3 separate regions of the Homo sapiens genome follow, and all the other regions are reported to be linked to region 2. Evidence: microRNA targets listed by miRTarBase, many of them from high-throughput screens and not tested one by one. Region 2 holds a microRNA gene; each other region holds the end of a gene's coding sequence.
What was found. Region 2 holds the annotated microRNA hsa-miR-579-3p (UUCAUUUGGUAUAAACCGCGAUU, at 2,994-3,016, shown strand). A microRNA usually pairs through its seed, bases 2 to 8, with sites in the 3' UTR of a target mRNA and lowers its output. Matches are read on the target gene's strand: a 7mer-m8 pairs with bases 2 to 8, a 7mer-A1 pairs with bases 2 to 7 and ends in A, and an 8mer does both.

Region 1 (11,580 bases), not on the chromosome of region 2:
AGGCAGGCAGGACACCTAGAAAGCAGAGAGGCTGTGAGCAGGGGTGGCGAAACCCCTGGTTTGTGGCCCGGTGAAGACTCAGTGCCTAGTGTGGCTACACTGAGGGAAGGTGCCGTGTGGCAGAAATGACTGTTGTAATCTTGGTGTTAGAGCGGAAAGAGGCTGAAAACTATTGTCTAGGCCTGTCTGTAAAATTCTGTCTTGTTGTTGCTTCATGTTCCTGATTTGTGGAGATGCAGCAAATGTGATTTCATTAGATTTTGCAGATGATCTTAGGTAGCATGGTCGGGGCCTGGAGAGCATCCATTACTCTGTGTTGCCACCCGGTGTTTGCCTCTCAGTACAGTTTATGACTGAACTTTTCATTAGTTCTCCTGGCTCCTGTATTTTGGTATTTGAAGTGTTGGGAACTGGTGCTAAGTATCATCCATCAAGATTGGCTATCCATCTTTTTGTTTTAATGGACTGTCTGATTTTACATGGGTCTATAATTTTCCAGTCTGGGAAAAACTCAGTTTTCTTTAGTTATCTGGTCAAGTAGTAAGCCATCTTCATTTCATGTTTCCTTTTGTTAACTGAATTATAACCCAGGAGTATTAAAAAATACTGTATTTAAATGTATCCAGTTATTTCCTAGTTAGGCTCTGGCTGGGGTATTAGGAACAATATTTGCTTGCTGAGATATGTTAGTCACCCTCAGCTAATGCTGATAGTGATTCATTCAGACTGGCAGGCAACCAGATGATTTTTACATAAACACTAATACTCCCAGTAAATGATTTTTCTTGTGAAGGTGTCATCATAAATACTGCCCAGTAGCCTTTTTTGGCAGCTTATTCCTGATGGAGAAAGAATATGCTTACAGATACACCCAAACTTCACGTTAGTAGGAAGCCCTGCCACACCTTTTATTGGTGCACAGGAAAAACGAAATCATGGAACATTGGAGCTGAAGGAGGCCTTGGAGATCATTTGGGCTAATCCTGCTTATTTTACTTTGGATGTCCAAAAAGGTTGTGATTTGTTTAAGGTCACATAGCTAGCTCAGACTAAACTTCAGATGTCTTGGGTTTAATAATTATACCGCCTTTTGTGTTATGCAAGCATTCTGTATTATACATACATGTATTTCAGATTTGTACTCACTTTAAATGATATACTCTGGGAAGTTACCTTGGTGTATCTTTGCCAGTTTCACAGAAGCAGCTTTGTTAGTCACAGGAGGAAGTATATTGTGACTCCTTATGGATATTATTTGTATTTTAATGCCAAATGGCCTTAGTTTAATTACTACAAGATGAAAGGAGCTCTCCAAATTCTGTTGTTGCCTTATGCTTTGTTTTATTGAATATTGCTCTAGAAACGCAAGTCATTCTAGAGGATTCAAGCATTCTGAAATTTATCAGAATATTTGGGATGGAATTTTGATTCAGAAGTGTTGTTCGTTAAAAGACTAAGTAGTTACTCATCTTTTTGTAGTTCATAAGTGTGATGATTGGGTTTTGACATGCAGGTGTGAGATGTGCCACCCTCAAACCTTGTTACAACATAGACATGTGACCCTCTGATGTGGGCAAAAAAAGACTAAGTTATTAAATATTTACAAAGTCTCTATTTTCCGTAAGAAAATGTATGTAAGTGTTTAAAGGCACTTACTGGAGGAGGAAACTAGTGGGGTTATAGGTGTTCAGCTGGATTTAAGGGGAGCATGGATTGTAGATTCATGGTAGACTGGGGCAGATCACAGTGAGAGGTATGGAGACTACTAATGAATATGTGAGGATGAATAATGAGAACCCTGGCTTGACCAGAGTGGAGGCAGCACCCCTGGGGAATGGTCAGGATAGCTGTTAGCCAAAGACCACACTGAAGAAAGAAGTGGGTAGGCAAAGGAGAGACTTTGCCTGTGTTAAGGGTTTGTAGCAGAAGAGTAGGGGTCCTGGGGACAGGGAAATGGAGAAATTAAGAGTGAGCTGGTATTTTTATTTTGTCTGGGGCTTGGGGGTAGGGAGGACTCAGACAATTGCTTGTTTTACTTTGTGAGAACTTGGCACGTTTTCTGATTTTTACCTGTAATAATGATTACACTTGCTGCTTATGTCCTTGAACCACTAATTCCCCAAATAAACCATCATTGTTCATGATTTCTGATACTCCACTGCTCAGTCTTCTCAATCCATTTTAAGTGTGTCTATTTGAATATGCTATTGATAACTTTCCCCAATGAACTTGGCCTTTTCCCTCTGGAGGTTCTGTCCTTACAGATTGGTTTAAGTAATACCTTTTTTGTTTAGTGTTTTATGGTTTCCTAAGTGCTTTGCTTTCTTTTTTTTCATTATTGAAATTAAAGACCTTTTGGATAAGCAGAGACTGATTTAATAAAATTAAAGACCTTTACCAGTAGGTCATATTAAGGAATCCCTCTACTTTAGACGACACACCATCTTTTAAGGGCTTGTGAAATGTCCTGGGTCAATTTAGGAAGTCATTTTCTTTGCTTGGGCCCAGACCAACTCTGTTAGCAACTCTGTTAGGAACTCTTGTTAGGAAACTCTGTTAGTTTCCTAGGGGGTGCTGAACCTAGTACGACAAACTGGATAGTTTAAAATAATAAATGTATTCTCTCATAGTTCTGGACGCTAGAAGTTTGAAAGTGAGGTGTAGGCAGGCCACGCTCCCTCTGAAGGCTCTAGGGAAGAATCCTTCCTAGGCACTCTCCCAGCTTCTGGTGGCTTCTGGCAACCCTTGGTGTTCCTTGGCTTGTAGATGCGTCACTCCAGTCTTTGCCTCCACTGTCACATGGCATTCTTCCTGTGTGTGTGTCAAAATCTCACTATCCTTATAAGGACACCTGTAATTGCACTTAGGGCACACCCTAATGTCCAGTATGACTTCATCTTAACTAATTACATCTGCAAAGACCCTATTTCCAAATAAGCTCACATTCACAGGAACCTAGGGTCAGAACTTCAGCGTATCTTTTGGCGGGGGATACAGTTCAACCACTGCAAAGTCTAATAATGCTCTTCCTACTAACTGCATAGCTAGTTCACTTGTAGTTGGCATCATGGAGAACTAAGGGAAGTTAAAGCTTGTGAAATTTAACTCTTCCACTTAAAATAATTGATGCTTCCATCCTTGATGACCAGAGTTTCCTGTGAGGTAGGTCAGAGTACAACTTCCTGCTGAGTAGCTGTGCTTCCTTTCACTAGGAGCTGGGGGTACTTTCATGTCACTTATGAATTGTTCTTCATTTTGGTTTGGGAGAGGGCTGGGAGTATCAGTTAGGGTTCCATGTGTAGCCACACAGGGCGAAGCTCTGGCCACTGGATCTGTGTGATGTTCCATCTGATCTGTGAAGCCCCACCATCTGTTAATGTGTATTTGAGGAGTGGTTGGTTCTTTCCAGAGTATAAAGCTGGAAGCAGAGTCTGGAACACTTCCAGTCTGTTGTCTTTGAACATTTGACAAAGGGACCGTACGATCTTACTGTTCAGAGTATCTTTTTTTTTTTTTTTTTTTTCTTTTGAGACGGAGGCTTGCTCTGTCGCTAGCTAGGCTGGAGTGCAGTGGCACGATCTGGGCTCACTGCAACCTCCGGGTTCAAGAGTTTCTCTTGCCTCAGCCTCCCAAGTAGCTGGGACTACAAGCGCGTGCCACCACGCCCAGCTAATTTTTGTATTTTTAGTAGAGATGGGGTTTCACCATGTTGGCCAGAATGGTCTCGATCTCTTGACCTCATGATCTGCCCGCCCTTGGCCTCCTGAAGTGCTGGGATTACAGGCATAAGCCATCGCGCCCGGCCTGTTCAGAGTATCTTTTGCAGAATGGCTGAAGCTCGAGGTTTTCTTCTTCACCATTATGTACTGCTGCTGTACAACCTTTTCATAATTATCCTTAGTCCCATTCCTCTACCAAGGTGAAAGCAACATCTTATCAGACCCGAATTATGAATTTCTCAAGCCCCTATGATTTTCTGTTTTGGGTGCCAAGTATTTATCTCTTCTGTTAGACTATAGTCTTTCTTCACATAGGGTTCATGTCTATATTGGTTTTATCCATGGGTGGTTTTTATTCTCCAGAGTGACTGACCTGTTCGTAATTCCGTTCTTGAGAAGGATTGTTGATTATGTTGAAGGGAAGGCTTCTTACCAAGATTTTCAGATTTTGCTTTCAATGTTTATCTTTTTGGGGTTTTGCAGGTGACAGAGCTGAATGAACCTCTCTCCAATGAAGATCGAAATCTCCTCTCTGTGGCCTACAAGAATGTGGTTGGTGCCAGGCGATCTTCCTGGAGGGTCATTAGCAGCATTGAGCAGAAAACCATGGCTGATGGAAACGAAAAGAAATTGGAGAAAGTTAAAGCTTACCGGGAGAAGATTGAGAAGGAGCTGGAGACAGTTTGCAATGATGTCCTGTCTCTGCTTGACAAGTTCCTGATCAAGAACTGCAATGATTTCCAGTATGAGAGCAAGGTGTTTTACCTGAAAATGAAGGGTGATTACTACCGCTACTTAGCAGAGGTCGCTTCTGGGGAGAAGAAAAACAGTGTGGTCGAAGCTTCTGAAGCTGCCTACAAGGAAGCCTTTGAAATCAGCAAAGAGCAGATGCAACCCACGCATCCCATCCGGCTGGGCCTGGCCCTCAACTTCTCCGTGTTCTACTATGAGATCCAGAATGCACCTGAGCAAGCCTGCCTCTTAGCCAAACAAGCCTTCGATGATGCCATAGCTGAGCTGGACACACTAAACGAGGATTCCTATAAGGACTCCACGCTGATCATGCAGTTGCTGCGAGACAACCTCACCCTCTGGACGAGCGACCAGCAGGATGAAGAAGCAGGAGAAGGCAACTGAAGATCCTTCAGGTCCCCTGGCCCTTCCTTCACCCACCACCCCCATCATCACCGATTCTTCCTTGCCACAATCACTAAATATCTAGTGCTAAACCTATCTGTATTGGCAGCACAGCTACTCAGATCTGCACTCCTGTCTCTTGGGAAGCAGTTTCAGATAAATCATGGGCATTGCTGGACTGATGGTTGCTTTGAGCCCACAGGAGCTCCCTTTTTGAATTGTGTGGAGAAGTGTGTTCTGATGAGGCATTTTACTATGCCTGTTGATCTATGGGAAATCTAGGCGAAAGTAATGGGGAAGATTAGAAAGAATTAGCCAACCAGGCTACAGTTGATATTTAAAAGATCCATTTAAAACAAGCTGATAGTGTTTCGTTAAGCAGTACATCTTGTGCATGCAAAAATGAATTCACCCCTCCCACCTCTTTCTTCAATTAATGGAAAACTGTTAAGGGAAGCTGATACAGAGAGACAACTTGCTCCTTTCCATCAGCTTTATAATAAACTGTTTAACGTGAGGTTTCAGTAGCTCCTTGGTTTTGCCTCTTTAAATTATGACGTGCACAAACCTTCTTTTCAATGCAATGCATCTGAAAGTTTTGATACTTGTAACTTTTTTTTTTTTTTGGTTGCAATTGTTTAAGAATCATGGATTTATTTTTTGTAACTCTTTGGCTATTGTCCTTGTGTATCCTGACAGCGCCATGTGTGTCAGCCCATGTCAATCAAGATGGGTGATTATGAAATGCCAGACTTCTAAAATAAATGTTTTGGAATTCAATGGGTAAATAAATGCTGCTTTGGGGATATTATCTCTGTTTGGTCTTGATTTTTCCCCCCTCGAGGAACTGTTTAACCAGTCACAAATTGTGGTTTGAATCTCTCAAACATGGAAGCATTTGTAGTACATTATCCAAGTTTTCCTCCCCTCTCATTACATTACATATTTTGCAGCACACACATAGGATTCATAGATTTTAAATAGTTTTCTGTGAACCCAGCTAACATAGCCTCTCTGATCAATTTTCCTGATAACTGGTGCTTTTTAATGAGCCTCGCAGAACAAAATGCAGTCTTCCACAGTATAGCACCTCTGAAACATTGTGGGCTCTGTTGAACTTGAGAGTGTATTTAACACTGAAGGTAAATACGGAGCTTATACACGTCCTCAAGTTTTCTTAATGTAATAAGATACTAGGGGCACAACTTGCACCCCTGAAATCTTTAGTGATTATTGTTAAGCATTTAGTATTCTTTAAAATAGAAAAGCAAACCTCATTGAGTTAAAAAGCCTAACCTACCCCTTAAACACTTGCTTAACCCCAATGTGTCTCTCGAGCCTCAGCATCACTGGCTGACTGTTCTTGAGTGAGGTGGTTTCCAGCTCCTCACGATTTTTATCACCTCCAGAGTGGCACCTAGGAATGAACGTTTGTTAGGTGAGTTGGTTCAGTTACACAGAACCCTTAAACGCCTTTTTCTATTTGTTTGTTTTTTTGAGATGGAGTCTCGCTGTGTCATCCAGGCTGGAGTGCAGTGGCATGATCTCGGCTCACTGCAGCTTCCACCTCCCAGGTTCCAGCCATTCTCATGCCTCAGCCTCCTGAGTAGGTGGGATTACAGACGCCACCACCACACCAGGCTAATTTTTGTATTTTTAGTAGAGATGAGGTTTTGAGTGTTGGCCAGGCTGCTCTCAAACTCCTGACTTCATGTGATCCACCCACCTTGGCCTCCCAAAGAGCTGGGATTACAAGCGTGAGCCACCGTGCCCAGCCTTAAACACCTTCTTGACTAAAGTTTGGCATTAGACTGATGGAAATGGCCATGACACAATCTCTGTCCTTGAATTTATATTGTGGAGCACATAACTTGTAAGCATGTAAGTTTAACCTGTTTCTTATTCTGAAGTAGAGTATGAGCCCCGCCCCCCATGCCGGGGCCGATGAATACGGCTCAGGAAGCCTGTTTCAAGTTGACCTAATTTTAAGATAAAGTGGTTATTGAGTTTCACTTCAGTTAGTAGGTCAGGTATTTGAAAGTCAACAAGCTTTATATGGCTAATACTTGCTTTTGATAAGCACGTAGACAAAATGTTGCTGGGCCATGGTGGCGTGCGCCTGTAGTCCCAGCTGCTTGGGAGGATGGAGCCCGGGAGGTCGAGGCTGCGGTGAGCCGTGATTGCTCCACTGTACCCCAGCCTGGGAGATAGGAAGACCTTTTTTTCTCTCTCTCTCTGTCTCTGATAGCAAGACCTCTCTCTCTCTCTCTTTTCTCTCTCTGTCTCTCTCTCTCTCACACACACACACAAAGGGCTCTTACATTTTCTTTTTTTGTTTGAGATGGGAGTCTCACTCTTGTCACCCAGGCTGGAGTGCAATGGCACGATCTCAGCTCACTGCAACCTTTGCCTCCCAGGTTCAAGTGATTCTCCTGCCTCAGCCTCCTGAGTAGCTGGGATTACAGGCACCCACTGTCGTGCCCGGCTAATTTTGGTATTTTTGTGGAGATGGGGTTTCACCATGTTGGCCAGGCTGGTCTTGAACTCCTGACCTCAAGTGATCCTCCCACCTCAGCCTCTCAAAGTGCTGGGATTACAGGCATGAGCCACTGTGCCCGGTCGCTTTTACATTTGAAATGTCCTTTGCAGTTGCTAAAGCATTCACATTTACGTTTTACAGCTGTCTTCTGAAAGGTTTTGTCCCACTTTACAGATGAGGAAGCTAAAGTGCAAAGGTTGTGGATCTCTGGAATTTATACAGCTGGTAAGCTAGAGGACAGCTTCCACCCAAGATTTATTCAGAATTTTAACGGCCCTCTGGGGGGCCTGGGGAACCTTGGCAAGCCATGCCACCTTTGAGGTTCAGGTCCCTCATTTTTTAAGTGTAGGATTTGGGTTATGTTTTAATCTAAGTTCATGGTGTGTAAGGCACCTTCTTTGGGAATGAGGTATGGGGAAGTATGGACATACGTGATTAATGTTAGCCACATAGGTCGCGTGCAGTGGCTCATGCCTGTAATCCCAGTACTTTGGGAGGCTGAGGTGGGTGGATCACTTGAGGTTAGGAGTTCGAGACCAGTCTGACCAATATGGTGAAACCCCGCCTCTACTAAAAATACAAAAATTAGCTGGGTGTGGTGGCTGGTGCCTGTAATCCCAGCTACGATGGAGGCTGAGGCAGGAGAATCACTTGAACCCAGGAGGCGGAGGTTGCAGGGAGCCGAGATTGTCCCACTGCACTCCAGCCTGGGCAACAGAGTGAGACTCGGTTTCAAAAAAAAGAAAGAAAAGGAGGTTAGCCACATAAATAATAGATGAGGCTCTTTGAAAGGACCTAAGAGGGTGCTGTAAATTACATGTGATGTAAGCCTGGAAGTCTTCACTGCTGCATATTTTTTCCCCAATTCTACTTAAAACGTTTTAAAACTTGTCAAGATAACTTTCTCAAATCGTTAAGAAGGGGTCATCTCAATGTTACAGCATGAGAAATTAAAGTCCAGAGAAATGAAATAGCTTTCTAGGTCATGGCAAAATTGGTGCATCTGGAGTAGCATTCAGATCCCGAATCCTTGTCCCTGGTTCTCTTAACTGCCATGCTCTTTGGGTTGAGACTAGAAAGAAAATGGATACAACACATTTCACCCTTAGGAGACTTTCAGTGTTTTTAATGTTTTCACTTAGAATGGAAGAAATTATACTTGAAAAGGGATGTTTAAATTTATTGATGTTGGCTGGGCGCGGTGGCTCACGCCTGTAATCCTAGCAGTTTGGGAGGCCGAGGTGGGCGGATCACCTGAGGTCAGGAGTTCGAGACCAGCCTGACCAACATGGAGAAACCCCATCTCTAGTAAAAATGCAAAATTAGCCGGGCATGGAGGCGCATGCCTGTAATTCCAGCTACTCAGCAGGCTGAGGCAGGAGAATCGCTTGAACCTGCGAGGCAGAGGTTGCGGTGAGCCGAGATCGCGCTATTGCACTCCAACCTGGGCAACAAGAGCAAAAACTCCGTCCCCGCCCCCCCCCCCCCCCCAGAAAAAATTATTGTTGCTATTGCTTCAGATTTCCAGTAGCTCCTCAAACCCTGCTCAAAAGTCCATTTCTTTGAGTTGGGGGAAGGGGTAGGATTCTTGATAATGAAGCTATTGTTGGGTAAATTCTTGGCCGTCCTTAAATCCTTCGGGATCAGGGAGCTAGGATTCCTCTTGGCTCTGTAAGATTAAATAGGCTGTGCGTGGGCCATCAGGCCCTCCATACCTTCCTCCCATACACCCTTAGAATCTGCCATCCAGAGACTGAGAGGGTCCTCATCTTAGCAGATGTGACTATCAGGCAAGCACAAACACTATGATTCAGAGCTGGGTGTGACTTAACAGGTCTTCTTTCATTATAAAACCCAATCATTAGACTGGCTAATAAAAATTACCATCTCAAATACTTACTGTGTCTTGGGTACTTTGAATGCATGGTCTCTGAATCTTTACAGCAGCCTTAGCAGTGAGGAATGTTAATATTTTTAACACATGAGGAAACCAGGTATTCGGTGATGTAACGTGCATAGCTAGTAAGAGGCAAGGTTGAGATTGAAATGGGCTGTCTTACTTTAAGGTTCTTTCCACTACGCCATGGATATTTTGATCCCCAACTAGAGAAAAGGAGTCCTAGAAATGTTATAACAAGCCTGGCAAGGTGGTTTACACCTGTAATCCCAGTACTTTAGGAGGCCGAGGTGGGAGGAGGATTGCTTGAGTCCGGGAGTTTGAGACCAGCCCGAGCAACACAGTAAAACCCCATCTGTACTAAAAGTACAAAAATTTAGCCAGCTGTGTTGTTGCATGCCTGTAGTCCCACCTATTTGAGAGGCTGAGGTGGGAGGATTGCTTGGTCCTGGGAGGTTGAGGCTGCAGTGAGCCCTGATTACACCACTGCACTCCAGCCTGGGTGACAGCCTGTCTCAAGCAAACAAACAAACCTGAAGGAATCTATTGTCAAATTCATTTCCCAAAGTTCTACTCCCATGCCATTCTGTACTAGGAAGGGGAGGGGAAATAACATTTGCTGTCTTTTGTGAGCTAGTCAGTCACCCTGCTAAGTGAAGCTTTATGTACATTTTTATTTTTTTATTATTATTTTTGAGACAAGAGTTTCACTCTGTTGCCCAGGCTAGAGTGCAGTGGCACACTCTCAGCTCACTGCAATGTCCACCTCCCAGGTTCAAGCGATTCTCCTGCCTCAGCCTCCTGAGTAGCTGAGACTACAGGTGCATGGCACCACACCTGGCTAATTTTTGTATTTTTAGTAGAGACAGGGTTTCACCATGTTGGCCAGGCTGCTCTCCAACTCCTCACCTCAAGTGATCCTCCTGCCTCAGCCTCCCAAAGTGCTGGGATTACAGGCATAAGCCATTGCGCCCAGCCTACATTTTTTTTTTTTTTTTGAGACGGAGTCTCTCTCTGTTGCCCAGGCTGGAGGGCAGTGGCACAATCTTGGCTCAGTGCAAACTCTGCCTCCTGGGTTCGAGCGACTCTCCTGCCTCAGCCTCCCAAGTAGCTGGGATTACAGGCATGCGCCACCACGCCCAGCTAATTTTGTATTTTTAGTAGAGACAGGTTTCTCCATGTTGGTCAGGCTGGTCTCGAACTCCTGACCTCAGGTGATCCGCCCACCTCGGCCTCCCAAAGTACTGGAATTACAGGCGTAAGCCACTGCACCCGGCCAACGCCCAGCCTACATTTTAAAGTTCAAGCTAATAATCTTGTGAATTAGGTCATAGCTCCAATTTAGCAGCTCAGAGAGGAAAAGTGACTTTCTATGGTCACATAGCTGAGGAGTGGCAGAGCATGTCTTTGTGCAGGGCTTCAAGATCCTTTTCATGATGCGATGTTGTCTTCAAGACAGGGGCTGAAAGCCTGCCACTCCAGGTCTTCCTTGATAAGACCTCTTTCTTCCTTGCCAGGTAGCCTTTGCTCAATCACCTTCTTTACATTCGCCTTTTAAGCCAGATTGGTCTTTTTTACTGCCCCACCCACATCTCCAGGCAATCTGGACCTTAATGTGCTTCTTACTCCTAAAGCTTGGAGCTCCTTCACTTCAAAAAGTGAGGTACTACAGTTACAGTAGGCACTGCCGTTACAGTATAACTCAAGAGGTGGATCAAAGCACCAACTGGAATCTCTCCAGCTGCACCCAGTTTGTTCAGCCTGCTCTTACTTTTGCTCAAGCCGTTACTCTCCTGTCTGGCTTTCTTCTCTTGCCCTATTCGAATTCTATCTATGAAATCTTACCTCCTCCCTGTCAGCTACTGCGATCCCTTCTTTGGGATCCAGTACTGTGGGTCTGTACCACACAATGGCATTTATCTGTCTTCATTCATTTGACAAACACATTGAAGAGCTGCCATTATGGGGTAGACACTGGGCAGGTGGCTGGAGAGACCTTAGTGAATTATACAGACATGGACATGGACCAGGGGGCTAACTCCAGTGTTAGAGTGGGGAGATACAAAAAAGTGGGGAAGATACATTAAAAAGATATAAAGTAACTAGGAAAATGTCACTCACGGTCCTCTCCAGGTCCAGCACACAAACTCACAGTAATGAATTCATGAATAACTCATTGATTACAGGTCAGAATTTTTAAAAAGAAATGACTGAGGCTGGGCGTGGTGGCTCACGCCTGTAATCCCACCACTTTGGGAGGCTGAGGCGGGCGGATCACAAGGTCAGGA
Region 2 (5,000 bases):
ATATGTGGGGGTTTATGAATGATATAATCTTCAACTATGATGATTCTTGAATTTTTTTTCCACACCAAGGTACGAAATGATGAAGGAAAAGTAATTCGGTTCCATTGTAAATTATGCGAGTGCAGCTTTAATGATCCCAATGCTAAGGAGATGCACTTAAAAGGGCGAAGACACAGACTTCAATATAAAGTGAGTAAAATTTCAGCTATTACCTTCTTTAAAACAAAAAACAAAAACAAAAACACCCAGAGCATTCTTTATGTAAAAGAAAGCATCTAAACACAGCTTGCCAAGTCCATGATGTCCCATTCTAAGATTAGCATGTCATGTTGGTAGACTCAGATGGATGTTTGGTTTTTATTTATCCATTTTTAAAATAAAGAAGAATAACATTCTCATCAGTTTTAGTAATTGTGGCAAAAACTGAAGCATTGCCTGGACCAAGCAATCATGTAAAGATAATTAATTCACATAAAATGTTTGAAAAAAGTCTCAACTATTTATCCACCTTCTTTATCTGGTAGAATTCCCACCAAAATGAACTTTGAGATGAGTTGATATGTTGGAAAATCCCTTCACTTATCTTAGCGTAGGAATTCTTCACTGAATACACTTCAAATGTTAAGATAAATCAGATATTGTATTTGAAGTTTTTTTTTTTAATGAGATGGAGTCTCGCTCTGTAGCCAAGGCTGGAGTGCAGTGGCATGATCTCGGCTCACTGCAGCCTCTGCTTCCTGGGTCCCTGTTCAGGCATTTCTCCTGTCTCCGCCTCCCGAGTAGCTGGGATTACAGGCATGCACCCCCATGCCCAGCTAATTTTTGTATTTTTAGTAGAGATGGGGTTTCACCATGTTGGCCAGGTTGGCCTGAACTCCTGACCTCATGATCCGCCCTCCTTGGCCTCCCAAAGTGCTGGGATTACATGCGTGAGCCACCGTGCCTGGCCTGTATTTGAAGTTTTTAACTAGGCTAGATTGATGTACTAGATCCATGTTTTCTGTTTTAAACACGGAGGAGGTGAAAATTAAAACAGTGTAAAAGGGTAGTACTTAAATATGTAAAGAAACTTTTTAACCCCAACATAGACATTTAGAGTCATCTGTTTATAAACAGTTACAGTTGACCCTTGAACAACATGGAGGTCAGGGGCCCCTCACGCAGTCAAAAATTTGCCTGCCTTTTTTTTTTTTTTGAGATAGGGCCTTGCTCTGTTGCCCAGGCTGGAGTACGATGACATGAACATGGCTCACTGCAACCTCCCGGGCTCCAGTGATCCTCCCACCGCAGCCTCCCAAGTAACTGGGACTACAGGCATGTGCCACCATGCCTGGCTAGCTTTTGTATTTTTCTAGAGAACGTTTCACCATGTTGGCCGGGCTAGTCTGAAACTCCTGGCCTCAAGTGATCTGCCTTCCTTGGCCTCCCAAAGTGCTGGGACTCCAGGCTGCTTATAACTTTTGACTCCCTAAAAACTTCTAAAAGCCTACTAATGACCAGAAGCCTTACTGATAACATAAACAGTTATTTTTATGTTAACACATTTTTGGTATGTCATGTATCTCATATATACTGTATTCTTAGAATAAAGTAAGCTAGAGAAGAGAAAATATTATTGAGAAAATATGAAAATCAAAATATTTACTATTCATTAAGTGGAAGTGGGTCATCATATAAAGGTCTTCATCCTCATCATCTTCAAGTTGAGTAGGCTGAGGAAGAAGAGGAGGGGTTGGTCTTACTCTCTCAGGGGTGGCAGAGGGAGAAGAAACTCAGCAGCATAGATGTAAGTGTATTCATATACTTCAAACCCCTGTTGTTCAAGGGTCAAATGTAAAGTAAAATTAAATATCCATTAGTTTTTCTAAGGATTTCATGACTTTTTGTTGGTCAGCACTAAGTTACATACTTTTTACATAATTTTTATTAATGTATTTTGAATCTTTTCTCTGATTTACCTTAATTATATTGATTTTACTCTCTAGTGGGAAACTTGCAACTAAAAGCCTCCGTGATTAAAGAATAAGTGTAATTGTATGATTAAAAATACATGTAGATTGTTTTGGGGCTGCTGTTTTTTAAATGTCTTATTTATATTAATAGAAAAAAGTAAATCCAGATTTGCAAGTAGAAGTAAAGCCTAGTATTCGAGCAAGAAAGATTCAAGAAGAGAAAATGAGGAAGCAAATGCAGAAGGAGGAGTACTGGCGAAGACGAGAAGAAGAGGAGCGTTGGAGAATGGAAATGAGGTAATATCTTTAACTTTTAATAGCCTGGTAAGTGGTTCAGCCTTTCTTAAAAACTTAGCCATTCTGAGCATGTGACTCCCATTCAAAGCAATCCAGATTTATTTACTTCCAATTTTCACTCTTGAGGAAGATCCTAGGTCTAGGAAAGACATGCATTAAAATTGTTACTGGCTATACTAATATTTTACTGTGGCCTTGGTATTAGAGTTATATGTTTAAGTGGCATCTTTTATAAATTAAACATATGAAGAAATAGTTTCATATTATAAATAAGTGCCTCGGTTTCAAACAAGCAAAATAGACATACATTTCCTGATAGAAGTATAAGATTTGATAGATTCTACATGTTAATAATGTCCATAAAGAAACTTTAGTGGCTACAGGGAAGGAGAATTGAGAAAACATATTTCAAATATTTGTTTATATATATATAAAGATACAAATGTTAAGTTTTATTGAAATATAACATATCTTCTAAACTTATACAGTGACAGAGTTGTGTAACAATCACCACAATCAATTTAGAACAGTTCATCACCCTCAAAAGAAATCACGTACCCATTAACAATAATTCCCCATGTGTCCCACATACCTAGTATCTCCCCCAGCCCCAGCCCTGGACAACCTCTAACCTTTCTGTCTCTATAGATTTGCCTATTCTAGAGATTTCATATAAATGGAGTCATATTAGGTTAATGCAAAAGTAATCGCGGTTTGTGCCAGATGACGATTTGAATTAATAAATTCATTTGGTATAAACCGCGATTATTTTTGCATCAACTTACTACAGTCTATGGTCTTTTGTGTCTGGCATCGTTCACTTAGCGTGTTTTCATGGTTCATCCAGATTGTAACATGTTTCAGTATTCCATTGTCTTTTATGACTAAATAATACTGAATAATACATCCTTATGTACCACATTTTGTTTATTCGTTCATTAGTTGATGGACATGCAACTTGTTTCCACATTTTGACTATTATGAGTATTGCTGCTGTGAATATTTTTGTATAACTTTTAAAATACAGTTTTAGCAGAAACATACCATACACGTATTTTCATAATCCACTTTTTTCATTTACATACCTTCAACTTTAAAAACTAAATTCGGATTATTTTGTTTTTCATGAGGACATAGTAATTTTTGTGCATATGTAAAATTTTCTTCATAACCAATCCTTGTTGTTATTGTTTAGATATTTAGGTAGTTTCCAGTGTTTCCTTATTATAGTTATTAATATCTTGACCCTCCTTGAGGCACTTTTTTGTTTCTTTCACCAAGTATGTGAACCTATTGAGGCGATATTACTGCATACATTATCGTTAGTTGCTAATAATAGAATATGGGAAATGGAAATGTTTGAAGGATGCTCACATGTCTGCCTATACTGGATAGCATAACTCAGTGGTTCTCAAACTTTTTGGTCTCAGGATCCTTTATCCTCAATTATCAAGGACTCCAAAGAGTCCTTATGTGGGTTATACCTGTCAAGACTTACTGTATTAAAAATTAAAACTGGCCGGGCACAGTTGCTCATACCTGTAATCCCAACACTTTGGGAGGCTGAGGTGGGTGGATCACCTGAGGTCGGGATTCAAGACCAGCCTGACCAACATGGAGAAATTCCCATCTCTACTAAAAATACAAAATTAGCCGGCGTGGTGGCGCATGCCTGTAATTCCGGCTACTCAGGAGGCTGAGGCAGGAGAATTGCTTGAACCCGGGAAGAGGAGGTTGCGGTGAGGCGAGATCGCGCCATTATACTCCAGCCTGGGCAACAAGAACAAAACTCCGTCTCAAAAAAAAAAAAAAATTTAAAACTAAGAAATTTAAATATTTGTTAATTCATTTTAAAATGACATTTTAATTATTTTTTGAAATATGGTTACATGTATATTTGTTAAAATATTACACGATATATTTAATCAATAAAATACAGTAAAAAAATTATTCCACAGAATAGTGGGAAAAGTTATGCTATTTTACATTTTTGTACATCTCTTTAATGTCTGGTTTTAACAGAAGGCAGCAAGATTCTCATGTTTGCTTTTGTGTTCATATGTGGTGAATAACACATGTTGCCTCTGGATAATTTCACTGTACATTTAGAATGAAAGAGCAAGTAAGTGTCTTTAGTATTTATTATGAAAATAATTTTTTTTTTTAAACAGAGTCTCACTGTGTTGCCGAGGCTGGAGTGCAATGGCACGATCTTGGCTCACTGCACTCTCCACCTCCTGAGTTTAAGTGATTCTCTTGCCTCAGCCTCCCAAGTAGTTGGGATTACAGGCACCTGCCATCACGCCTGGCTAATTTTTGCATTTTTAGTAGGGATGGGCTTTCACCAGGTTGACCAGGCTGGTCTCAAACTCCTGGCCTCAAGTGATCTGCCCGCCTCGGTCTCCCAAAGTGCTGGAATTACATGTATGAGCCACCACGACTGGCCTTATTGTGAAAATAATTTTGACCCCATGGATCTCCTGAAAGGGTCTCCGGGACCACTTGGTGTCCCTGAATTGCACCTGGAGAACCCCTGCTACAGCTTAATAAAATCTCTACCAATTAAATGTGATAGCCATTTTGTTTCAGTTTGAATTGTTTTCATGTTTGGCTATTTATACTTCTTTTGTGGTAAATTGCTTGTTTTTTCTTATGTGTTGATTTGTACAGACGTTTCTTACGTTGTTATTATTAATAATCCTTTTTATGGGTTACCTTTAAATAGTTTTTACTATTATGTATGTGTTGGTT
Region 3 (11,580 bases), not on the chromosome of region 2:
ACCCGCCTCGGCCTCCCAAAGTGCTGGGATTACAGGCATGAGCCACAGCGCCCGGCCTAGGCAAACATTTTAATATAGAAATGAGCAAAGGGGCCAAGGCCTAGGCAATATGAGGGGCAGGGAGATATGAAAAGGCAAGGAGAAGGCTGCCTAGCCCTCTTCCTTGCTGTCACAGCCACCGCCCCTGGGGTTTCCACAGCCTAGTTGTAAGCCTTCTGCGTAGCCACCAGTCATCCCACCCATCTGGCTCTCCTTCCTTTTGACGCCACTACAAATGACCAATAAGCATAATATTAATCCACAGCAGTAATCAAATATAGGTAAATTCAAAATAACTAGGGCCGGGCGTGGTGGCTCACGTCTGTAATCCCAGCACTTTGGGAGGCCAAGGTGGGCAGATCACCTGAGGTCAGGAGTTTGAGACGAGTCTGGACAATATAGTGAAACCACGTCTCTACTAAAAATACAAAAATTAGCCGGGTGTGGTGGCACATGCCTGTAATCTCAGCTACTTGGGAGGCTGAGGCAGGAGAATCGCTTGAACCTGGGAGGCCGAGCTTGCAGTGAGCCAAGATTGCACCACTGCACTCCAGCCTGGGCAACATAGCGAGACTCCATCTCAAATAATAATAATAATAATAATTAGAAAGATTATTTTATTTTACATTATGATATTAAAATAATACATAATAATATGGGTGAGGGTGTGGAGAAATGAACAGCTTTGTAAATTGCCTGAGGGAGTGGGAATTGTTATAACTTTTTCATTTAATTTATTTTTTTTGAGACAAGGTCTTGCTCTGTTGCCCAGCCTGGGGTGCAGTGGCACAATCACGCCTCACTGCAGCCTCAGCCTCTCAGGCTCAAGCAATCCTCTCACCTCAGCCTCCTGAGTAGCTGGGACTACAGACCTGTGCCACCGTGTCCAGCTAATTTTTTACTTTTTTTGTAGAGATAGGGTCTCGTTATGTTACCCAGGCTGTTCTCAAACTCCTAAGGCTCCAGCAATCCTCCTGTCTCTGCCTCCTGAGTGCTGGGATTACAGGTGTGAGCTACCACGCCCAGCCTGGAACAACTTTTTACATAGGAATTGGAAATAGCTATTAAAATTAAGACTGCAAAACTTTAAAAAAATTAATTTACTTATTTATTTTTAGAGATGGGGGTCTTGCTATGTTGCCCAAGCTTGTCTCAAACTCCTGGGCTCAAGCAATTCTCTCACCTTAGCCTCCCAAGTAGCTGGGACTACAGATAAGCACCACTGTGCCGGGTAAGACGGCAAAACTTGACAGAGTGGTTCCTTTCATAGAGATGTGCAATGCTATATACACATAAAAATGAACTGTTAATACGTGGATCTATTTCTTTTCTCTTGAATCTGCTCTGTGACTTGCCTTGTTAATGAGACATTGGCTAAAATGGAGCAACCTTGCTAGTAATCAAACCGTGCAAATTAAAACATCAGTGAGATACCCTTTTCACCTATCAGAATGTCAACTGATTAAAAGAATGTGAATGCCAATTGTTAGGAACTGCTGACGGTATGTTCATGTGTATATTAGTACAAGCTAGTGGAAGGCAGTTTGACAATACGTATCAAAATCCTTACATGAAAACCCTTTGAGCTAAGAATTCCACTTCTATGAATGTATCCCTGGAAAATATCAGAAAGGTGTACAATGATGTGCATGCAAAATATTAATCTCAGCATTGCTTATGATTGCGAAAAATTTGAAACCATCCAAAAATCCATCAACAGGAGATCAGTTAATTATTGGCCATCCATAAGGAATAACACACAGCCAATAAAGTATCAACATGGGAACATATGCAAGACATATCATTATGTTTAAAAGCAAAGGTGGGGACATATGTTGTTTTGTTTGTTTGGTTTTATTTGGTTTTTGTTTGTTTGTTTTTGAGACCGAGTCTAGCTCTGTCACCCAGGCTGGAGTGCAGTGGCACGATCTCGGTTCACTGCAACCTCCACCCCTGGGTTCAAGCGATTCTCCTGCATCAGCCTCCTGAGTAGATGGGACCACAGGCGAGTGCCACCACACCCAGCTAATTTTTGTATTTTTAGTAGAGACAGGGTTTCACCATGCTGGCCAGGCTGGCCTTGAACTCCTGACCTCAGGTGATCCGCCTGCCTCAACCTCCCAAAGTGCTAGGATTACAGGCGTGAGCGCCCGGACTGCATATGTTTATCTGATTCCATTTTTGTTTTACGATTTGTAAATATATCTATGTGCGTATACATGTTTGTGCTTATAAATATACGCAAACAATTGATAAAAACATATACAAATTAGTAGTCTTTCTCTCTAGGGGGTTATGAGCCTAGGAATTTTACTTTTCTCATAATAAATATGATGTTTAATGTTTTACAAGCCATCAGAAAAACAATATTGAAAACTTCAGAAATTTAGAAAAGTTGCTCAACTGCACTGACAATTAAATGAATGCAAATTAGAAGAATAATGAAATGTACTGCCTATCATATTGGTAATAAAAAAATTAAGATTGTTAACACTCAAGGTAACATAGAGCCCTGATCTCTAAACTTTTTTGATCAATCGCATGTATTAGTAAAACGTTTTGGCTTTGAACACTAAATGTATATGTATATGTAATTGTTTTCATAAACAAAGATGGGGTCATATTATTCCTACTGTTCTGCCACTTGTAAATTCATATGTACAGTGATGTTCACTGAAACAATTTTTGACATATGAAAAACTAGAAACATTCAGAATGTCCATCAATAGGGATCTGGTTAAATAAATTATTGACCACTATTAGTCAACATGTACATAGATCACTATTCAGTCATCAAAGAGAGTGAAGTAGATGTACATTCTTGAAAAGGTAAGAGCAATATATCAATACATAAAGTCGGGAAGTAGATACAGCAAACGTAATAGTAGTTCATGGCAAGGGTAGGAGGGGAAAGTGAAGCTATGCAGGGAATTTGCTTTCTATTGTTTTACATATTTCTGCTTTGAAAATTTCTAAAAACTTGATTGAATGACTTTTCCAATCAGAAGAATACGAAAGATCTAACACAAAAACAGAAGTATTGCTTGAATTATTCAAGCAGAATGCACACATTTTAATGTCCAGAAAAGTTGCGGGTTTTGTATATTTGTACTAGCTCAAGAGTTGAGGATTGAAAAACGTTCCTAAAGGGATGAGACAACAGGAAATGGGTTTGTGCTTCTGAGTTGCTCAAGATCATGCTTATGAAGGACATTTTATATCGTTTTGAGCAAGTTTTGTGTTCCTTTTGTTAAAACTTAAAAAACTGAAAAAAACTTAAAAATTAAACATAATTTTAAAGAAAAGACAGCCCGGGTTAGGAAGCTAGGTCTCCCACGTCAGCACGTGCCCTGCCCTTCCTGGGGTTCTGGGGCCTGGGCCAGGACAGTTAGGCTAAACTGACTCTAGGCCACGCGGACCCCGTGGGGCGGGGCGGAACCTGGCAGGGCGCCAGTGACCGCTGGGGCCAGAGCCCTGCCGGGAAAGGAGGGCTTCCGCCTTGCAGCGCAGCTCGGATCAGCAGCAGCCCAGGAGGCCTCCCGCCCGTACTTTCCCGCGTCCATCCCTCTGTCCCACGGTCGGTGAGTCAGCGGAGCCTGATGGAGGCCTTGGGCTCTGGGCACTATGTGGGAGGCAGCATCAGGTCCATGGCGGCGGCGGCCCTGTCTGGCCTGGCGGTGCGGCTGTCGCGCCCGCAGGGGACCCGCGGCTCTTACGGCGCCTTCTGCAAGACGCTCACGCGCACGCTGCTCACCTTCTTCGACCTGGCCTGGCGGCTGCGCAAGAACTTCTTTTACTTCTATATTCTGGCCTCGGTGATTCTCAACGTCCACCTGCAGGTATATATTTAGAGCCACTAACTTTGTGGCATTTGGGGGCTCCTCGTCAGGATGGCTGACTTCCACCCACCTGCTCACCCACCCTAGAGCAAAGCGACCAACTCCGCTCCTGCATGCAGACTTGCCACTCATTCTTTCCATTGCCTCATCTTTTAGTATAAATGGGTGGCAAAAAAAGAAAAAAACAGCATTTGTGGAAAGCCTGAAATATAACCCAAATCGTCTAAGATAGAATGAAAAATTGACTCTCAAGGAAATATTTGAAGGAACAGAATACAGCTTAAAAATTTGAAAATCCTTAAAAATATCTGAGAAGTTTTTGCATCCGTAAAACAGAAAACAGCACGAACTTTAGGAAATGACAATGGGCACAGAATGCAATAAAAAAAAAAAACGGGGAAAGGTAACTAAAAACTTAAGGAAAGATAAACTGAACAAGAATGGCTCAGACAGCAGGCAAATCTCCCCAATTAGAAACGAAGTGAATAGACCCAATTGAATGAGATGAATTCTAAGCAATAGATGGATTGAATAATAAGCTGGAGGACATTAATAACATGTTCTGGAAGGCATACATTTCTTCAACCCAAAGGAAAAAAAATGACAGAAAGAAACTACAGGGAAGAACATTAAAAACTGTGCAAGAAACTTATGTTTCACATATGAAGCAACCTCAGATGTGGCATGGTTTTGAACAGTTGCCGAAAGTGTGAGAAAGGGAATCTGTTTGAATATTGGCACATGGATCAAGACTCTGGAGTCGGTGATGAGAAAATCCAATCAGAGCATTCCACTTTGCTATTCATTGAACCAGGTAGCCAACAGAAGAGTTAAAAATTAGTGATATGACTATATTCAGGGGGAAGGAGAGCTGAGGGGGGCGGCAGGAAGTCAGCAGAAAATGCCTCATGTCATTAAGTCAAGAAATAGTAATAAAGGCATGTTATTGAAAAAGGGGGTGTAATCTCTAAACAAGCACGTGTAGAAGTTTGTGTTTCTGATTTGGGGAAGCAAGAGTTGAGAAGGAGGGACAGTTCTATTACTTTTCATTATATGTCCTTTTTCTACTGTTTGATTTTTAAAAACTATACACATGTATTGCTTTTGCTTCGATTAAAAATCAAGACATTAAAATGAATTTATTGCATTTAGAATGAAATTTGGGGGGGGGGTTGCTAAGAGTGTCAGGTGGACTCTGAGTTAAAATAAGTGCCTTCCTATCTTTCTTCAGTAGTATCTGTATATCCTACAAGGTTCCTGGGTGATCACACAAACTATGATTTCCTTGACTTTGTAAATGTCTTGTTTCCAAACAGACCACAGGCCATATGGAAATGCTTTAAAACTAAAAATGGGCCGGGCGGGGTGGCTCACACCTGTAATCCCCAGCACTTTGGGAGGCCAAGGCAGGTGGATCCCCTAAGGTCAAGAGTTAGAGACCAGCCTGGCCAACATGGGGAAACCCTGTCTCTACTAAAAACACAAAATATTAGCCGGGCATGGTTGCGGGCACCTGTAATCACAGCTACTCGGGAGGCTGAGGCAGGAGAATCGCGTGAACCCAGGAGGCAGAGGTTGCAGTGAGCCAAGATCATGCCATTGCATTCCAGCCTGGGCAACAGAGCGAGACTCTGTCTCAAATGAATAAATAAATAAATAAAAACATAAAAATAAAAACGGCCAATAGTCTTCATGTAGCCCAGAGCTTCTTCACACCATGAAACTTCTCATGAGCAAATCTGTGGAATGTCATAGTTAAGATAAAAATTAAACAATAAATATGTGATTAATTTTCAAAACTTAAAAATTGAAGGCTGGGCACGGTGGCTTACGCCTGAAATCCCAGCACTTTGGGAGGCTGAGGCGGGCGGATTGTTTGAGCTCAGCAGTTCAAGACCAGCCTGAGCAACATGGCAAAACCCTGTCACTAATAAAAATACAAAAATTAGCTGGGCATGGTGGTACGTGTCTGTAGTCCCAGCTACTCAAGAGGCTGACGTGGGAGGATGGTTTGAGCCAGGGAGGTGGAGGTGGTAGTGAGCCAAGATCGCACCACTGCACTCCAGTCTGGGTGACAGAGCCACACTCTGTTTCAAAAAAAAAAAAAAAAATCGGACAGGGGCCCAGTGATGTTTATATAATCTTAAATTTTGGTGTTGACCATAAGAGCAAAACATGAGTTCACCTGGGGTCTAATTAAGAAACTAATGTAAAATTAAAAAAAAAGAGAAAGAAATATATAATAGCAGAACAGTGGAAATAAACTCCTACATCCAACAGTAGGAGCTGGTTAAATCAAAATAGTACATCTATATAATAGAATACTATGTGGCCATTAAAATGATAAGGAATTATATTTTATTGATGTGGAATGAATTTAGTAAATGTGAAGCCACCTAATCAATGATTCAAGTGATTGAGTCAAAGAGTGATACATGTATATTATATATTCATATACTCAACTCAGTTATAGAGAAATAATAAATGGAAAGAGTGCACACTTACAATATGCCATACAATGTTCTAAGCACTTTATATACATCATTTTTTTTTTTTTGAGATGGAGTGTCATCCAGGCTGGAGTGCAATGGCGCGATCTTGGCTCACTGCAACCTCCGCCTCCCAGGTTCAAGCGATTCTCCTGCCTTAGCCTCCCAAGTAGCTGGGATTACAGGTGTGCACTACCATGCCCGGCTAATTTTTGTATTATTAGTAGAGACGGGGTTTCACCATGTTGGCCAGGCTAGTCTCGAACTCCTGACCTCAGATGATCTGCCCACCTCAGCCTCCCAAAGTGCTGGGATTACAGGCGTGAGCCACCACGCCCGGCCTATATACATAATTTAATCCTCACAACAACCCTGAGATAGGGACTATTACTAGCAATTTTCAAGAGAAGAGAGAAACACAGAGAAGTATAGTGGCAGAGTGATAAAATAAAATATTGCAAACAATATTATTCTTCCTACTAATATGAGACACTCATTGCATGACTAACTTTTAATCGTATTTTTATTATTTAAGAAATTGGGGCTGGGCACGGTGGCTCACACCTGTAATCCCAGCACTTTGGGAGGCCGAGGTGGGTGGATCATGAGATCAGGAGTTTGAGACCAGCCTGGCCAGCATGGTGAAACCCCATCTCCACTGAAAATACAAAAAAAAAAAAAAAAAAAATTAGCTGGGCATGGTAGTGCATGCCTGTAGTCCCAGCTACTTGGGAGGCTAAGGCAGGAGAATCGCTTGAACCCGGGAGGTGGAGGTTGCAGTGAGCCGAGATCGTGCTACTGCACTCCAGCCTGGGTGACGGAGTGAGACTCCGTCTCAAAACGAACCCCCAAAAAACCCAAAAAACAAAAAAACAAAAAACAACACACAAAAAAAAAAAAGAGAAAAAGAAATTGGAAGGCATCCTTTAAAATTTTCTTGTAAAATTCATGCTGCAAGTGGATGCCATGGATCCTGGAATTTGTGGAACCAAGGCTAGACACTCCATTCCTGCAGCCTCATTTCAGCACTCCCAAGCCGTTGCACCACTGCACTATGGAGAATTGATGGAACTCATAGTCACTTAAAAAAGAGGGTGGGAATTCTTTATGTTGTTTTTGTTTGTTTTTGTTTTTTGTTTTTCAGACAGGGCCTCACTCTGTTGCCCAGGCTGGAGTGCAGTGGTGCAGTTTCAGCTCACTGCAACCTCTGCCTCCCGGGCTCAGGTGATCCTCCCACTTCAGCCTCCTGAGTAGCTGGGACTACAGGCACATGCCACCACGCCCAGCTAATTTTTGTATTTTTTTGTAGAGGCGGGGTTTTGTCATGTTGCCCAGGCTGGTCTGAAACTCCTGGCCTCAAGCCATCCGCCCACCTTGGCCTCCCAAAGTGTTGGGATTACAGGCATGAGCTGCCACGCCCGGTCAAGGATTCTAACAAAAGAAATTATTTTTAATGAAACATCAAAAGTATTCTTTTTTTTTTTTTTTTTTGAGACGGAGTCTCGCCTGTCGCCCAGGCTGGAGTGCTGTGGCGTGATCTCGGCTCACTGCAAGCTCCGCCTCCCGGGTTCACGCCATTCTCCTGCCTCAGCCTCCCAAGTAGCTGGGACTACAGGCGCGCCCTACCACGCCCGGCTAATTTTTTTTTTTTTGTATTTTTAGTAGAGACTGGGTTTCACCGTGTTAGCCAGGATGGTCTCGATCTCCTGACCTCGTGATCCGCCCGCCTCGGTCTCCCAAAGTGCTGGGATTACAGGCGTGAGCCACCGCGCCCGGCCTAAAAGCATTCTTTATAAAAGGTACTCAAATCAAATTGGTTTTAATGTGGAAATTGTAAATAGTTAAATGTCACGTTTTTCTCAGAAAACACAGCTTTTTGCCCATTAACAGAACATGTTAAAATATACACATTTCTAAAGTTACTCACAGTTTAAAATTTTAACTTGCAAATAGTACAGGCTTTTTGGCTTTATTATTCACTTTTCAAATAATTTCCTCCACTTCACTGCAGGTGTAATTCCTCTCATACTACAGTACTGCTGCCCCACCTCCCCACAAAAAAAGGCAAGACAGCCAGTGAAACTACAGCATCCTCTGATTTATCGACCTGCTCTCTTTCGTGATTGCTGGGCTTTCATGAGCTGAATATCTCTGGCAACTTTTGGCATAGATTTAACCGTAGAGTTAACTGAAATTCTCTTGAGCACTACTAACACGCTTCTGAGCAACAGAAACTCTTTTAACTCAGACTTTCATAAAGGTACAATTCTCTGAAAGCACCAAATGGGAGGGATCTCCTCTCTTATATGCCAGATCAAAGGCGAATTCCTGTTCTACCCTGATTCTTTGTAATTTCCTGTTTCCTTTCCTCTGGGTCCTCTCCTGATATTCCCAGACTTCTGGCTTTACAGGCAGAGATGCAGGTTTCAGGCCCCAGACTTCCCTCAGACCGATCTACAGCCTGGGCTTTCTGTTGCCATCCTTGACCTCTTCCTTGGGTGCAGTTTTGTAACTGCATTCAGACTCAGACAGATACTGGTCACCTGAATGACTACTGGCATTGATCTCCTTCTCCAGAAACTCAGAGAGACTGTTTTTAGAACCCTCATCTCCCAATATAGGGGTGGGAGTGGTCAGAGAGTTATAAATATCCTGTCTTCCAAGGCATGGCTTACCACAAGTCTCCAGTTTGAATAGTTTTAGTACAAATCTAATAGCTTTGTTTCAAACCTTTCCTGAAACATGCTTGGGAACTTAGAGGTGCGGTTCATAAGCCAAGTTTTGTTGAGCCAAATAATCTAAATGATTCTGGGCAAGGTAATCAAATTCTTAACAGGCAGAGAGGCTCCAGGACAAATAAGGGTATCTATCCAATATTTGGGGCTTTACTGGGTACTAATGTCTGTCTGTCACCTGCATTTATCCTCCAAGTACTCCTTTGTTCTAGAGAAGTGAATCCCGGTGATTTTTAGCAGTTCCCCCAAAGAGAAGATGTTAGGTATTAAAAAAAAAAAAGTAACATAGACAATAATTACTTTTCATTCCTTGTATTCCCAGCATGTATAAACAACCTTCTCCCATTCATATGATGCCTCTTGGCATAATTTAATTATTCCACATGCAACCAAGAGAGAGGCAACACGTACAAACATTTCCAGCTACCACAGTCAGAGGTGAAGTCATGGGGCCTCTGTTTATAGTTCACGTTCTCCCAGTGATGTCTTTTCTTTCTCTACTTCTGCCATTATCCCAATTTGATATTCTGTAATCCCATGATCTAAGTGGTGAATTCACCATCACCACTGTACCCTATTTATAATACTAAAGAAAGAAGAGGTGAGAAAAGTTTCAAAAAAGGAAGACAATAAACAGGGAAATATAAGTAGAGGGTAGAGTCTTCATTGCTGTACATAGCCATGTGGTGGTCCTGTTACTCTATCAATTCCACATTCCCTTTGCTTTAGCCACTGGGGAGGCTCAGTCCTTCAATCCTAAGGAGTCTGAGCCCTTGGGAGTCCTTTGTAGGGTTGCAATATTATGTCATGCACCCCTCAGGATTGTAGTATAAAAAAATACCTTAGAGGACCCCCTGAGAATCATCCATATTACTCTCTGTCCTCCTTCTATAGCAGAAACCACAAAATCACCTTTTTTTTGCATGGCTCTGGGGATCTAAGAGTGGCTTCAAATTCAGTGAAACCATTGTTTTGTCTACTACTAAAAGTGTTTCTTCCTAGGAAATTTAAACCTCTAATCTAGTAGAGATCAGAGTTGTAGGTATGGGAAGCAAAACTGTTGCAATGGGTCAGGTGTAATTATGAGAGACACTACCTTTATTTCCACTCCTCTGCTCCCAGACTTGCTAATCTTGGCAGTGGGAGGAATAGCTCTATATATTGGTTGCTGGTTCATAGTATGTATTGCATCCTAGCAGCCTCCATGGTGAATCTCCTATCAGGGCTTGCCACAGGCTCCATATGGCATTCTTTTTTTTTATTTGTAGAATTTCTGTTTGCTAAACCCATATAGCATTATGATTTACTCCAAACATCTTGGGCACCATTGGATCTGCTAGATGATAAGGGCCAACGGGCAGACCTACCAGCACAGTAGCCTACACCAGCTGGAGAGCCTTGTTTTAGCTGTGGATTCACACTAACTACATGTGGCAGGAATGACATCTGCATTTTCCAAATCTTGAATAGTGGCAAAAATCCCTGAAATTCCCACAAGAATATGCTATTGCATTTATTTCCTCTGTTGAGGAGGAGGGGGAGCTCTCGTAGCTTCCATTTTCCCCCTGCTTACCCTTATAACCCCTTTCTCCAGGGCCCAGGTAGCCCATGTGGCCATATACTGGAGACTAGCATCTGTTTCTGCCTGGAGATTTCTGAAGTCAGGAGGCTTGCCTGTACCAGCAGGGTGAATAGGGAACATGATATGGTGGAACTAGAAAGAAAAGGATGGGGGAAACCTCCCATTCCATGCCTTCGCTCTGCATTCCTCAAAGGGTGCAGAAGATAACTATCGTGCTTTCCATGATACCATGTGTTGCAGCACAGAAGTTAGAGGAAGCAACAGAACCTCAGGGCAGCCCCAATAGCCACTAGCCAGATGAGGAACACTCCATCTGGAAGCAATGTGTGGATGCTGACTGATGCTGAGCATGTCCAGGCAGTGGTGGAATAATCCCAGAGGAGGGTTTAGGGTCTCACTCAGCTTACTGGCGGACAGACTCAGAGAAAAACTTCAGTTTCCCCTAACCTCGGTAAATGCCCCCTTCACTCTGAGGTAGGCACTACTGCAGGAGTGTTCTGGTCCATTGGCTTTAACATTAACTTAAAGTCAGTTTCCAATTCATTTCTTTCTTTTTTTGTGGGGACGGGGGGCATGGTTTCACTCTGTTGCCCAGGCTGAAGTGCAGTGGAGCGATCATGGCTCACTGCAACCTCTGCCTCCCAGGTTCAAGTGATTCTACTGCTTCAGCCTCCTGAGTAGCTGGGATTACAGGCGTGGCCACTGTGCCTGGCTAATTTTTGTATTTTTAGTAGAGGCGGGGTTTCGCTGTGTTGTCCAGGCTGGTCTCAAACTCCTGACCTCAGGTGATCCACCCACCTTGGCCTCCCAAAGTGCTGGGATTACAGGCGTGAGCCACCGTGCCCAGCCCCAATTCATTTCTGAAGGTTTGGGGCTATCCTTTCCACTGTAAGTTG

Region 1: the mRNA of YWHAH is a reported target of hsa-miR-579-3p. Seed matches in the 3' UTR shown: 7mer-A1 at 5,257-5,263.
Region 3: the mRNA of SMIM10 is a reported target of hsa-miR-579-3p. Seed matches in the 3' UTR shown: 7mer-A1 at 5,010-5,016.

The regions. Positions count from the first base shown.
Region 1 is chr22:31,951,937-31,963,516 of GRCh38, forward strand. It overlaps YWHAH (tyrosine 3-monooxygenase/tryptophan 5-monooxygenase activation protein eta), which reads left to right. Exons shown (of 2, transcript NM_003405.4): 2 at 4,203-5,667. The coding sequence ends at 4,856. It overlaps LOC124905158 (small nucleolar RNA U13), which reads left to right and starts at 1,468; the gene lies at 1,468-1,570.
Region 2 is chr5:32,392,408-32,397,407 of GRCh38, reverse strand. MIR579 (microRNA 579) reads left to right here and starts at 2,933; the gene lies at 2,933-3,030. It overlaps ZFR (zinc finger RNA binding protein), which reads left to right. Exons shown (of 20, transcript NM_016107.5): 10 at 70-189; 11 at 2,104-2,249.
Region 3 is chrX:134,987,458-134,999,037 of GRCh38, forward strand. It overlaps SMIM10 (small integral membrane protein 10), which reads left to right and starts at 3,534. Exons shown (of 1, transcript NM_001163438.2): 1 at 3,534-5,016. The coding sequence starts at 3,639. The coding sequence ends at 3,890.